Linked DNA regions of Homo sapiens. The protein of the gene in region 3 purifies or fractionates together with the protein of the main gene of each other region. This does not show direct contact. Each region holds a gene or a part of one and is shown on either strand. Other genes may lie near its edges.

Region 1 (3,500 bases), on a different chromosome or scaffold from region 3:
AACTTGGGAAGTGGAGGTTGCAGTGAGCCAAGATTGTGCCACTGCACTCCAGCCTGGGCGACAGAGGGAAACTCTGCGTCATAAATAAATAAATAAATAAATAAAGTATGGTACACTTATAAAGCCTTCCTTTTAAAAGTCAAATTCCAAGTTAGGATTTTCCTAAGGAAATAGATTCCTTTTTTAAAAGACTTCAATATTTAAACATTACGATTGTCTATCTACAGGGTTGTAGATTTAAGTATTTTTCTGATACATTTTCATTATTTGTATTTCTACAGATTTTTTAGCAGTGAATTACTGCTAAATAGTAAAATTGGGATAGAACAAATAGATAAATTTTTCTTGTAGCCTTTACATTTCCAGTTATTTCACCATAGCATGTGCCCTTTCAATGTTAATATTCAAGCTTTGTAATTGATTTTACTTAAACTGATTAATTATCTCCTTTCTTCCCATCAAAGAAAATTATACTTCAGAAAACTTCCTATTATGTTGTGGGAATGAAGATGAATAATTTCCCAGATGTTATTTATGATTAAAAGATATGTTTACTTAGAGCTCCCAAATCCACAAGATTCACCTGGGCCAACAGAGTGTTGTTTTAGACTAGCATGGATTTAGAGGATAGGCCAGGGATTTTAATCTTTGTGAGCCCTATCTAAATTTCAATGTAGGATTCTTTTTTTTGGTGGGAGGCGGGGGGCAGGGTGAGGCAGGGTTTTGCTCTGTCTCCCAGGCTGGTGTGCAGTGGCACCCTCATGGCTCACTGCAGCCTCCACGTCCTGGGCTCAAGGCCATCCTCCCACCTCAGCCTCCTGGAATTTTTTTTTTTTTTAAAGAATAATTATCAAAGTCAGAGATACCTGTAGGTTTAAATGTTTAAATGTAATAGTTTCTCAAATTACTGTATACTAGGTGTAGAGTAGTGCTTTTGGAAATCAGTGATTTATTAGCCACACAGATTTTATTATCCCATATATATACGGTTTTGTAAAGATAAACATTGTTAATAAAATAAACTTATTTCAATACATTGCTTGTTTCTACTCATATTTCTTTCCTTTTGGACAGACACTCCTACAACTTTCTAACCCTTCTAAATTAAAAGATAGTAATTGATAAAAAAGTAATTTTAAGGTACTTCTCAAGGGAGTTATTTATTATAATGTATAAAATGTGTAAATTATGATTAGGCAGCCAGTGACAATTTTTTAGTGGAGATTGAATCTCATCTTTTTGTAAGGAGTTTATGAAGTCAGTGTCCTTTGAATATCATTAGAGTCAGTATGTACTGAAATGGATAATTTTGCGTGTCGATTACTCTTTAGTGCATCTTGAATACATCTGCATTCTAGATTACCAGGTTCTTCATAATATGTTGCCAAGTTACAGTGTATTTATTATATGAAGATTAGTAACTTCTGACTTTTGCCTCTTTTTTTAGCCATTGGGGAAAAGTTAGTGAAATATTTGTATTTTGTTTCTTTAGTCTTGAAATTTCAGTGAAAGCTGAAAAATGTATGATTTTAGTATTGAAAAATGACGGTCAATTGTGACAAACGTAAGATATACTGATAATTCCTTAAGGCAGGACACCAAAGGCATATAAGTAATCATAACAACCATAGACACTATGATAGCTCTACTGTGGGTTTCATTGCTTCCTAAAATAGGATGAATCAAGTTATAAGTGCTTAGAAGGTTTAGAAGCTTCTGGTAGCATGGAGCTTATGTTACAAGTATGCTTTAGGTCAGTGTTTTTAAAATGTTTTAAAAATGATCCATGATAAAAGTACATTTATGTGGCAACCTGTGATATACACAACGAAAATAAAGGATTCTCTAGGTGTATATATAAACCTTACTAGATGGGATGCATTCTGTTTTTTTTCATATTGTTACAACTGTTGGTGTTGAACTGGTAGAGTACGCACTAATGAGTCTCAGCTTGAGGTTTGGAAAATTGTTCTAGATGGTGTGTAGTTCTTGTAATTTAATGTTGCTTCAGGTTTAAGGTGGGCAGGCTTCCCCAAGTACTTGAAGGAGATTAAAAAAATTTTTTTTTAAACACTGCTGATGGCTCCACAGGGAAAATGTAAATAGTGAAACTTCATGTACATCTTGGACAAAATAACTAGGGTCGAACACTTTTAAATAGATATCTATTGTGGGATTGCTGACTTGTATGGTAAGTATGTTTAACTTTATAAAAAACTTCCAGACTGTCTTCCAAAGTAATTCTACCATACTGCATTCCCACCAGCAGTATATGAGAGTTCCAATTGCTCCACATTCTCATCAGCATTTGGTGTAGTGAGTCTTCCTAATTGTAGCCTTCATGGTAGGCGTGTAGAAATATATCATTGTTTTAATTTGCATTTCTCTTTTTTTGTTTTTGAGACGGAGTTTCGCTCTTGTCGCCCAGGCTGGAGTGCAATGGCATGATCTTGGCTTACCGCAACCTCTGCCTGCTGGGTTCAAGAGATTCTCCTGCCTCAGCCTGCCAAGTAGCTGGGATATGGGCATGCGCCACCATGCCCAGCTAATGTTGTATTTTTAGTAGACATGGGGTTTTGCCATGTTGGTCAGGCTGGTCTCGAACTCCTGACCTCAGGTGATTGACCTGCTTCGGCCTCCCAAAGTGCTGGGATTACAAGCATGAGCCGCTGCGCCTGGCCTTTAATTTGCATTTCTCTAGTGGTTAATGATGTTGAGTATCTTTTGTGGCTTTTGTTTTTGTCATCCATATAGTCTGGTTAAATGTTCAGGTTTACCTTTTTAATATTGTAAGAATTCTATAATTCTTTATATAACAGTCCTTAATCAGATATGTACTTTACAAATATTTTCTGTCAGTTTATGTCTTTTTCTTAACAGGTTCTTTTATAGTTCATACTTTTTATGTCCTATCTAAGAATCTTTACCTAATCCAAGGTAACAAAGATTTTTACTTTTTTTTTCCTGGAGATTTTATCTTTTTACCTCTTACATTTAGGTCTGTGAACAATTTCGAGTTAAGTTTTACATATGTTGTAAGAGTCAAGTTTCATTTCTTTGCATATTAATGTGCAATTGATCTAACAGTGTGTGGAAAGACTACTTTTTTCCCTTTGTTGAAAATCAATTGACCATAAATGTTTAAGTCAATTTCCTAGCCACATTCCATTGATCTAGCTTCATGTCTTTATACCGAGGATTGAAATCAGCTAGTGTGATACTTTAAACTTGGTCTTTTTTTTGAGACAGAGTCTTGCTCTGTCACCCAGGCTGGAGTGCAGTGGCTCGATCTTGGCTCACTACAAGCTCCGCCTCCTGGGTTCACACCATTCTCCTGCCTCAGCCTCCCGAGTAGCTGGGACTACAGGCACCCGCCACCACGCCCGGCTAATTTTTTTGTATTTTTTTAGTAGAGATGGGGTTTCACCGCGTTAGCCAGGATGGTCTCGATCTCCTGACCTTGTGATCTGCCCGCCTTGGCCTACCAAAGTGCTGGGATT
Region 2 (3,500 bases), on a different chromosome or scaffold from region 3:
GCATGAGCTGATGTTTCCAGCCTAATTTTTTAATCAACAAATATTTCTGAGCCACTCCCCTCCATGTATAAAACATGGCTCTAGGTGCAGAGGTTTTGTTTTGTTTTGTTTTTAAGCATGAGACTCAGTTCCCCATTGCAAGAAGCTTGAACTAACAGTGTAGAAGGCAAGTTGACAATTACAAAACAAGATGATCCACCTGTAAGAAAGGAGTGAAAAGGGTACTGTAAAAATACAAAGGAGGAAGCAATCAGCGCTACCCCAGGACCTGGTAAGGAAGAGGGGCTGTCAGGCAAGGTTACAAAGAGAAGGCAACATGTAAGTTTTACAGAGGAATCCACAAGGAAAATTTTAAGGATAATAATAAATGTTAAGGCACCATCACAATCACACACACAAAAAGCCCTGAAAAAAAAAAAGTCAGAGAAAGAGGAAGTTCTTCACCCAAGGGCAAACAGCAAGAGGAAAGGAGCTGGAAGCAACCCAGACTCTTGTCATCCAGCTCAAGGAGATTTTTTAGCTGAAATAAAACATCGCATAATATTTACACCCTTCCCCACCTGAGCTTGGGCTACATGCTCTACAAAGCAAATTAAACATCACCTGCCTGTCCTCTAAAAGTCTACAATCTAAAAACAGGCACACTAATAAATGAACAAATTCAAGAACTTTGATGACGAACTATCACCCAAAGACAGTGTTCTGAAACAAACACTTCTCAAGTTCAGTTTGGCCCCCAAAATGAGGATAATAAATTTTTGCCCTTCCCTTTGGAGATGTTAAATACCAAGGGGAAATATTAAAATTGCATGGACGGGTTCCTTAAAAGATTATAAATAGAATTACTATGTGATCCAGCAATTTCACATCTAGGTATATGTCCAAAAGAAGTGAAAGCAAGGTCTCAAGGAGATATCTGCCCACCCATGTTCACAGCAGCATTATTCACAATAGGCAAGAGTAGAAGCAACCCAAGTGTCCATAGACAGATGGAGGGAGAGGGAATGGAGAGTTAGTGTTTAGTGGACACAGTGCTTGTGTTTTGGAAGATGAAAAACGTCCATCTTTTTCATGATGATGGGGAGGGATGATGGTGATGGCTGCACAGCAATGTGAATGTGCTTATGCCACTGAACTGTATGTACACTTAAAAATGGTTAAAATGGTAAAATTTATGTCACATATATTTGAGCAAATAATACACATATACAAAGAAAGTTAATAAAAGAATTTGTGATTATGTTCAAATAGGGTGCATGTATCTAGCCCTAATTTAGCAAGTTTGAAGAAGGGAGAGATTACTGTGGAGTGGAGTGTTCCAGGACGAAGACACAGCCTCGAACCCAAGTTCTGATGGAAAACACTCCAAATCTGGGAGAAATGGTCAGGACTCAGTAAGCAGAAGTGGACAAACTTAGTTTAAGTAGAGGGTTTGTGATGGAAAGTGGTAAAAGAGTAGAAAAAAAGAGACTGGTGCCAGAATAGAATGGCTCCTTAAAAGCCAACTTTATGAGTTTGGATTTCTACCTCTACCCAGAGAAGAACCACTGGTGGCTTTTGAGAAGGGGTGTTATATGATGAACACAGTGGTTCAGTGTGGGATGGTTTGGAGAGGGAGATCCTTAGTTGATAGAAAGTGGACTCCAGGTCGCTTAACTTGAGGGCTACCAAGGTGACTACAAAGTCTACTAAATCTGAAACCTAACACGTGGTGCTGCTAGCTTAAAGCTATGACTTTAAAATGTATCAGGCCAAATGCTTGCACATGAATGGAATTCTTCTCAAAGCATACACAGAAACTGTTGACAGTGGTACCTTCTTAGAAATAGGGCTGAAGTTAGGAGAAGACTTTTACTCTTCATTGTATACCCTTGTATAATATGGATATATGTTTTAACCACGTACATGAGTTTATTTTATAATTTAAAAAGTTTTTTAAATATGACAACCAGGAAGCATCAAAAAATATTTGGGCTTTAACCAGCCAATTCAAAACATTTCTAAAAATAAAGTGAAATATATTTCAATCTTGTTTCTCCCATATCTTAATCTCCATCACATAGTATAAACGTTGTGGGACTGATCTAAAAGTAACAGTACAAAGTACACAGCACATCTAAAGCTTCGCTTCAAACAGATGTCATGAATCATCCCAAAATAAAAACATCTCCTTTTTGGTGTATTTAAATGAAAAGTCTGCCAAGACTATTCCAAGTCAACACCTCGACAAAAACAGAAATTAAAAAAAAATAGCCCATGGTACATTTGATAAAATACATCACCATCTCAGTAAACGACCTTTTTGTTCATCCAGTTGTTCAGGCCAAAAACAATGGAATCATCTTATTCTTTTTCTCTCATCCTCTATATCCAAATCTCATAATCTCTATACTCAGAACCCAACTGCATCTCACCAGGACTATCATCCTGATCCATCCTCTCGTCCTGAACCACCGCAGTAGCTTTCATGGGACTCCTTGCCTCCACTCTTGTGCCCCACAATCAATCCTCCTTAGGGCCGCCAGAAAGATCTGCTTGAGACACAAATCCCAACAAGTCACTCCCCTGCCCACAACTTCCAGTGGCTTCCTATGACACTTGGACTAAAACTCAAAGGTCACAAAGCCTGCACCATCAAGACCCGCTTTTCTCTCCAGCACTGTGGTTAGCTCTCCCCATGACACCCTGCACTCAGGCCACACTGGCCTCTTTGCTATTGCTTGGACACAGCAGTGGCCCCACGTTGGGGGCTTCCCATTTGGTATGGTTTGTCTGTGTCCCCACCCAAATCTCATCTTGAATTGCGGCTCCCATAATCCCTGCATGTCGTGGGAGGGACCCGGTGGGAGGTAACTGAATCACGGGGGTGGGTTTTCCTGTGCTGTTCTCGTGATAGTGAAGAAGTCTCATGAGATTTGATGGTTTTATAAAGGGCAGTTCCCCTGAACATGCGCCTGCCACCATGTATGACATGCCTTTGCTCCTCCTTTGCCTTCTGCCATGATTGTGAGTCATCCCCAGCCATGCTGAACTGTGATTCAATTAAACCTCTTTCCTTTATAAATTACTCAGTCTCTGGTATGTCTTTATTAGGAGTGTGAGAACAGACTACCACTCAACCTGAATCTCTTCTCCCAAACATCCCATGCCTCTCTCCCCACTTCATTTGAGTCTCAGCCCAAATGAAGCCCCATCAGATAGTGTTTTCCCAACCACCCTACCTGAAATAGTAGAACCACCCTTCTTTCCCTTCATATTGCTTTATTTTTCTTTTTAGCACTTGAAATTACAATATATATTTTTGTCTGTTGCTTGTCATTTAGTTCCTCTCTCCCCCAACTACAATGTGCACTCTACGACTTCAGACATTTTTGCCACATTCACTGTTACATTCCCTGGGCCTACAGCATGTCTGGCAAATTAAATGAGAACTCAGTAAATATTTGTTGAAGACTGACATACAAATCAAGGCCCTCAAGATCACTGGACAAAAAGAGGCT
Region 3 (4,300 bases):
CTGAGTAGCTGAGATTACAGGTGCCCACCACAACCCTTGGCTAATTTTTGTATTTTTAATAGAGATGGGGTTTTGCCATGTTGGCCAGGCTGACCTCAAACTCCTGACCTCAGGTGATCTGCCCACCTTGGCCTCCCAAAGTGCTGGGATTGCAGGCGTGAGCCACCGCGCCTGGCCAGCCAGTTCCACTCTTACCGCTGCCTGTACCTAGATGCTCCCCTGCCCACCATCTCTGCCCATGCACACCTTCCACACCCTCCCACACCAAGGTGGTTTGCCTCCTGCTCCAGGAAGTCCCCCTGGACGGATCCTCTAGCTGGTAGTGATCTGAACCATCTCTGACCCATCCCTGGGCCCCAGTCCCACCGCCTGCAGGGCTCTAGGCCTTCCCAAGGCTGAGACCTGAGTGAGAGGCCAGCAAGGATGCCACCCAGCCCTGCCCCCCTCTGCCCACCTCACCACACTCCGCACCTCTCGGAAGGCGATGCGCAGCTCTCGCACCCCCAGCATGTGCGCCGTCTCCTCCCTCAGCTTTGGGCCTATCAGTTCTACAAACTCCTCAAAGTCCACACGGCCGCCCACTGCAGACCCAGGAAGAGTGTCACAATGGTGAGGGCATAAGGTCTGAAGCCCAAGGAGGGACATCCCACAGGCCAGGCACCCCCACCCCCAGGCTCTGCACCTAGGAAGAAACACCCGTGTCCACGCCTGCAGCAGATAGGAGGCTGGAACCCCCGTCCTTGGCTGCTGGGGTACCAGGGCTGCTTCTGCTCTTAGTGGAGAACCCAAGTGTGCAAGGAAGAGACCAGGCTTTGGAGCCAGATAGTGCCCGGTTCAAATCTTGGCCCTGCTGCTGATGTGCGTGGCATTGGCTGACTTACTGCCCTCCCTTCCTCATCCTAGGAGCAGGGTGAGGAGCCTACTCCATGGGGTTCAGGTTCATGGCCATGAAGTACTGGAGCCCAGTGGGCAGCAATAAATGCCACCTCCGAACACACCCATGTGGTCCGTGCCTCAGTTCTAAGATGCCATCAGTCACTCAAAGCACTCATGGTCACCCAACAGCTTTGGGGACAGAAAAGCATGACACCAAATGTCCAGCTCAATTGTAAATCACATCCCCATTTTGGGAATTTTAAGGAAAAAATGCAGGAGTCCTGGAATGAAGTGAATATGAGATTTGTCTGAGGACAAACCAGCGAAGGGGAACCACACAGTTCCTGCCATCAGACACTGAGTCGCAAGGCATAGGTGGGGTCCTCTCCCATCAGGGCGACCCCAATTCAGGCAGCTGCCACCAGGGCACAGGGCTGAGGCAGGGTCACAGAAAGAGAGAGAAAGAGAGAAGGTGCCAGGTGACTAGTATCAGCGGACAGCACTTTATCACTGAGTCAGGGGCTTCTGGGCCAGCGAGGCAGGAAGGGCTCGGGTGAAAGGAGCAAATGTGTATAGTGGCCATGGCAACAGACATCCCGAGCCAGGGTCCTCAACCTGAGCCCCAAGGGGCTCTCCTGGGTCTCCGGGCCGCCTTGCTGGCCTGCCTTCCCACACAGAGAGGCAGGAGCTTGAACCCGGTGCCCCTGCCTGGAAACCGCCACCCTCCCTCACTCCCACTAGCACCCCGATGGACTCCCAAGGGCCACCTCCTGCCAGCCCCTCGTGACCCCCTGAACTACGCAGGCTGCCCGGGCGGGCGGGCTCCCTGACTGACTGCGCATCTTGATGTGCTGCGAGACCTCCAGGAGCTCCATCTCGGTGGGCATGTAGCCCAGGGTCCGCATGCAGTCACCCAGCTCCCGGTGGCTGATGTAGCCGTCACGGTCAGTGTCAAACTCCTCGAAGGCGGCCTGAAGCTCTGTGGAGGAGGGAGGTCAAGCCCAGGTGGCCAGGCTCAGGGACAGCTCCCACCCCCTGCCAGCAGCAAGAGCCACTCACCGTCTAGCTCCTCGGGGCCCAGTTCGCGGTCCTGCAGGGGGAGAGTCCAGGATGTCCCCAGGGCCAGCCACGGCTCTGTCATCCTTCCTCCTTCATCCCCTGCTCATGTTGGCCTGGGCAGGGCCCAGCCCCATCAGAGTAGGAAAAGGACCCTGAAGCCTCGTGGGACCCAGGAGGAGCAAGCTCCCTTTTGTGCTCCTAGAGCCTGGAGCTCCCACAGAGCCCTGGTGTGAATTCTGGCTCTGCCCACCGCCCACGCTGGCCCGAGACCTACCCTTCCCCAAACCGCAGCAACCCTGCCCCACAGCCCAGGCTCAGTCTGGGGCAGAAGAGGCAGAGGGCCTCTCAGGGGCAGGGTGAGCTGAGCCCAAGGGGTGTGTCTCCAGCCCCACCCCCAGGACCCCCAGCCCAATCCAGGTCCCACCTAACCTTCCCGAAGACTCGATTGAGCAGGGGCCCGTATGTCCTCTGAGCAGCGTCGTGCAGGGAGTCAGGACGATGTCGGTGGGACTGGCGAGAAGAGGCCGGCCCAGGGGATGCAGGGGGTGCGCCCGCCGGCCCCTCTCCAGTGCTGGGAGGGTTATTGCTGCTCCCCGGGGCCTCGGGGCCTGTCTGCTCCCCAGAGCTGCCAGTGCGCTTTCGAGACCCTCGGAGCCCCCTCTCCTTCTTGCTCCTCTTCCTGGTCAACGGGGGCTCCTCTGCATCACTCTTGGGAGTCACAACCCCCGCAGGGGGCTTCTGACGGCCAATGGCCAGATTTGGGCCCTGCTGCCCCCTTGCCTGCTCTGTGGTCATGGGGGAGGGATAACAGGGCTCAGAGACACCACACCCCTGGGCACCCTTGGCTTTCAGGACCCATAAAGCTGCTTATGCACCCCCACTCTTAGAGCTGAGAGCCTAGGATCGGGCTCTGAGGGGGATTAGGGTAAGTGAGGCAGGCAGCCCTGGCCCTAATCCCAGTCCTCTGCCCCAGGGCTGGCCAGGGCAGAGCCAGATGGGTCCAGAGAACTGTCCTTGGTCAGAAGCAAGGGGCACCAGGACGTGGTGGCTGCCATGAGCCTCAGATGCCAGATCTGCTACTTATTAGCTGGGGGATCCAGCAAATTCCCCTCCCAGCCTCAGTTTCCCTATCTATAAAACATGGGGAATAATGCTAGAGCGCAGAAGACTCAGCTCATGTGTGACATGGGCAGAGGCCTTCGTTAGGCAGAGAGGACCAGGGAAGGCATCTCAGGTGGCAGGAGGCATGCGGACAACGGCTGGGAGGTGGGAAAGGATGAGCGAGTGGCCTACTGGGGCCCCCCCATGGGTGACATCCTGGCCAGAGCAGAGGGTGTGTGAAATGGAGGAAGAGGCCAGATCACAGATGCCTCGAATGCCGTTTTGAGGAGCACGGGGGGTGATGTGGGAGGAGGTGGACCTTGGGGTCTTAGAGTCTGCTCTGGGCTAGAGAGGCCCTGGGGAGGAGGGTCTGACTGTCCAGGCCCATCAGGGCTGGGGGAGGGGGTCTGGCTGGTCACTTGGCCCTACTGGGCCAGGGTTAGGGTTTCCCAGCAAGCAGCCCCATAAATAATTGATGTCCTCTCAGCTTGGGTTTCCTGCCCACCCGCCTTAGCGCTGCCGGGTGCCACAAAGCAGGCCCCAGTGAGGGCCGGGGGGACAGCTGGAGTGCTGGGCAGGCAGGCACGCCCTGCTCCTGCTCCTTCCACCCATCGGCCTCTGCCTCCCAGGTAAGCCAGGCCTCACTGGTCAGGGCCCCAGTCTCGGGGTGCCTGGGGCTCTGATCCAATAGGGAATGGAGACAGCAGAGGGGGTCAGCCTGAGGAGGAACCCTGAGGGTACGGAGGGCACCAAACTAAAGGCCAAGTGGCTGGAGCCGTGGGCCGTGGGCAGGGGCCAGCCCTTCAGGGCATCCGTTCCCTCCCCAGACTATACCACCACCTGGGCTCTCATCGCCCTCAAAGGGAAACTCCCTCCCCGCTGCCAGCGGGGAAGGGCGAGGTGGGGCTGCAGGCCTCTTGGATCCCAGGTCTGGGTGCCCTCCAACTCCCCTCACCCTCACCATCCCACCACCATCCCACTGCAGAGCCCCTCCCCCTCTCTTTAGCAGCTCCAGGAGACAAACAGGGGTCACCTCCTGCCTGAGCTGTGGGAAGCGGGAGAGGGCCGCGGTGGGGTGGAAGATGCTGGAGAGGCACCAGGGGCTCCTAGGATGGCCCTCCTGACCCCAGGCTGTGGGGTCCTGAGGCTCAGAGACCTCATCCTGAGCCCATGAGTGACACTCGCTGGAGGGGAGGGGGTTCCCACTGCCCCAGACTCCCTACCTTCGGGTCCCCTGGGCCCATGGGAACCAGAGCCCTCCCTT

Evidence for each region. The genes of interacting proteins can lie anywhere in the genome.
Region 1: the proteins of CABP4 (region 3) and DCAF6 purify together in Homo sapiens (affinity purification with mass spectrometry; one large-scale study listed by BioGRID and IntAct). This does not show direct contact.
Region 2: the proteins of CABP4 (region 3) and SPTB purify together in Homo sapiens (affinity purification with mass spectrometry; one large-scale study listed by BioGRID and IntAct). This does not show direct contact.

Annotation. Positions count from the first base shown.
Region 1 is NC_000001.11:167,939,683-167,943,182, forward strand, and holds part of DCAF6 (DDB1- and CUL4-associated factor 6), read left to right. Parts: intron 1-3,500. UniProt on the Homo sapiens protein: Ligand-dependent coactivator of nuclear receptors. Enhance transcriptional activity of the nuclear receptors NR3C1 and AR. May function as a substrate receptor for CUL4-DDB1 E3 ubiquitin-protein ligase complex.
Region 2 is NC_000014.9:64,869,908-64,873,407, forward strand, and holds part of SPTB (spectrin beta chain, erythrocytic), read right to left. Parts: intron 2,772-3,500; exon of another isoform or gene 2,415-2,771; intron 1-2,414.
Region 3 is NC_000011.10:67,453,854-67,458,153, reverse strand, and holds the start of CABP4 (calcium-binding protein 4), read right to left. Parts: upstream 2,801-4,300; 5' UTR 2,731-2,800; coding exon 2,365-2,730; intron 2,049-2,364; exon of another isoform or gene 2,018-2,048; coding exon of another isoform or gene 1,967-2,017; coding exon 1,936-1,966; intron 1,856-1,935; coding exon 1,712-1,855; intron 582-1,711; coding exon 472-581; intron 1-471. UniProt on the Homo sapiens protein: Involved in normal synaptic function through regulation of Ca(2+) influx and neurotransmitter release in photoreceptor synaptic terminals and in auditory transmission.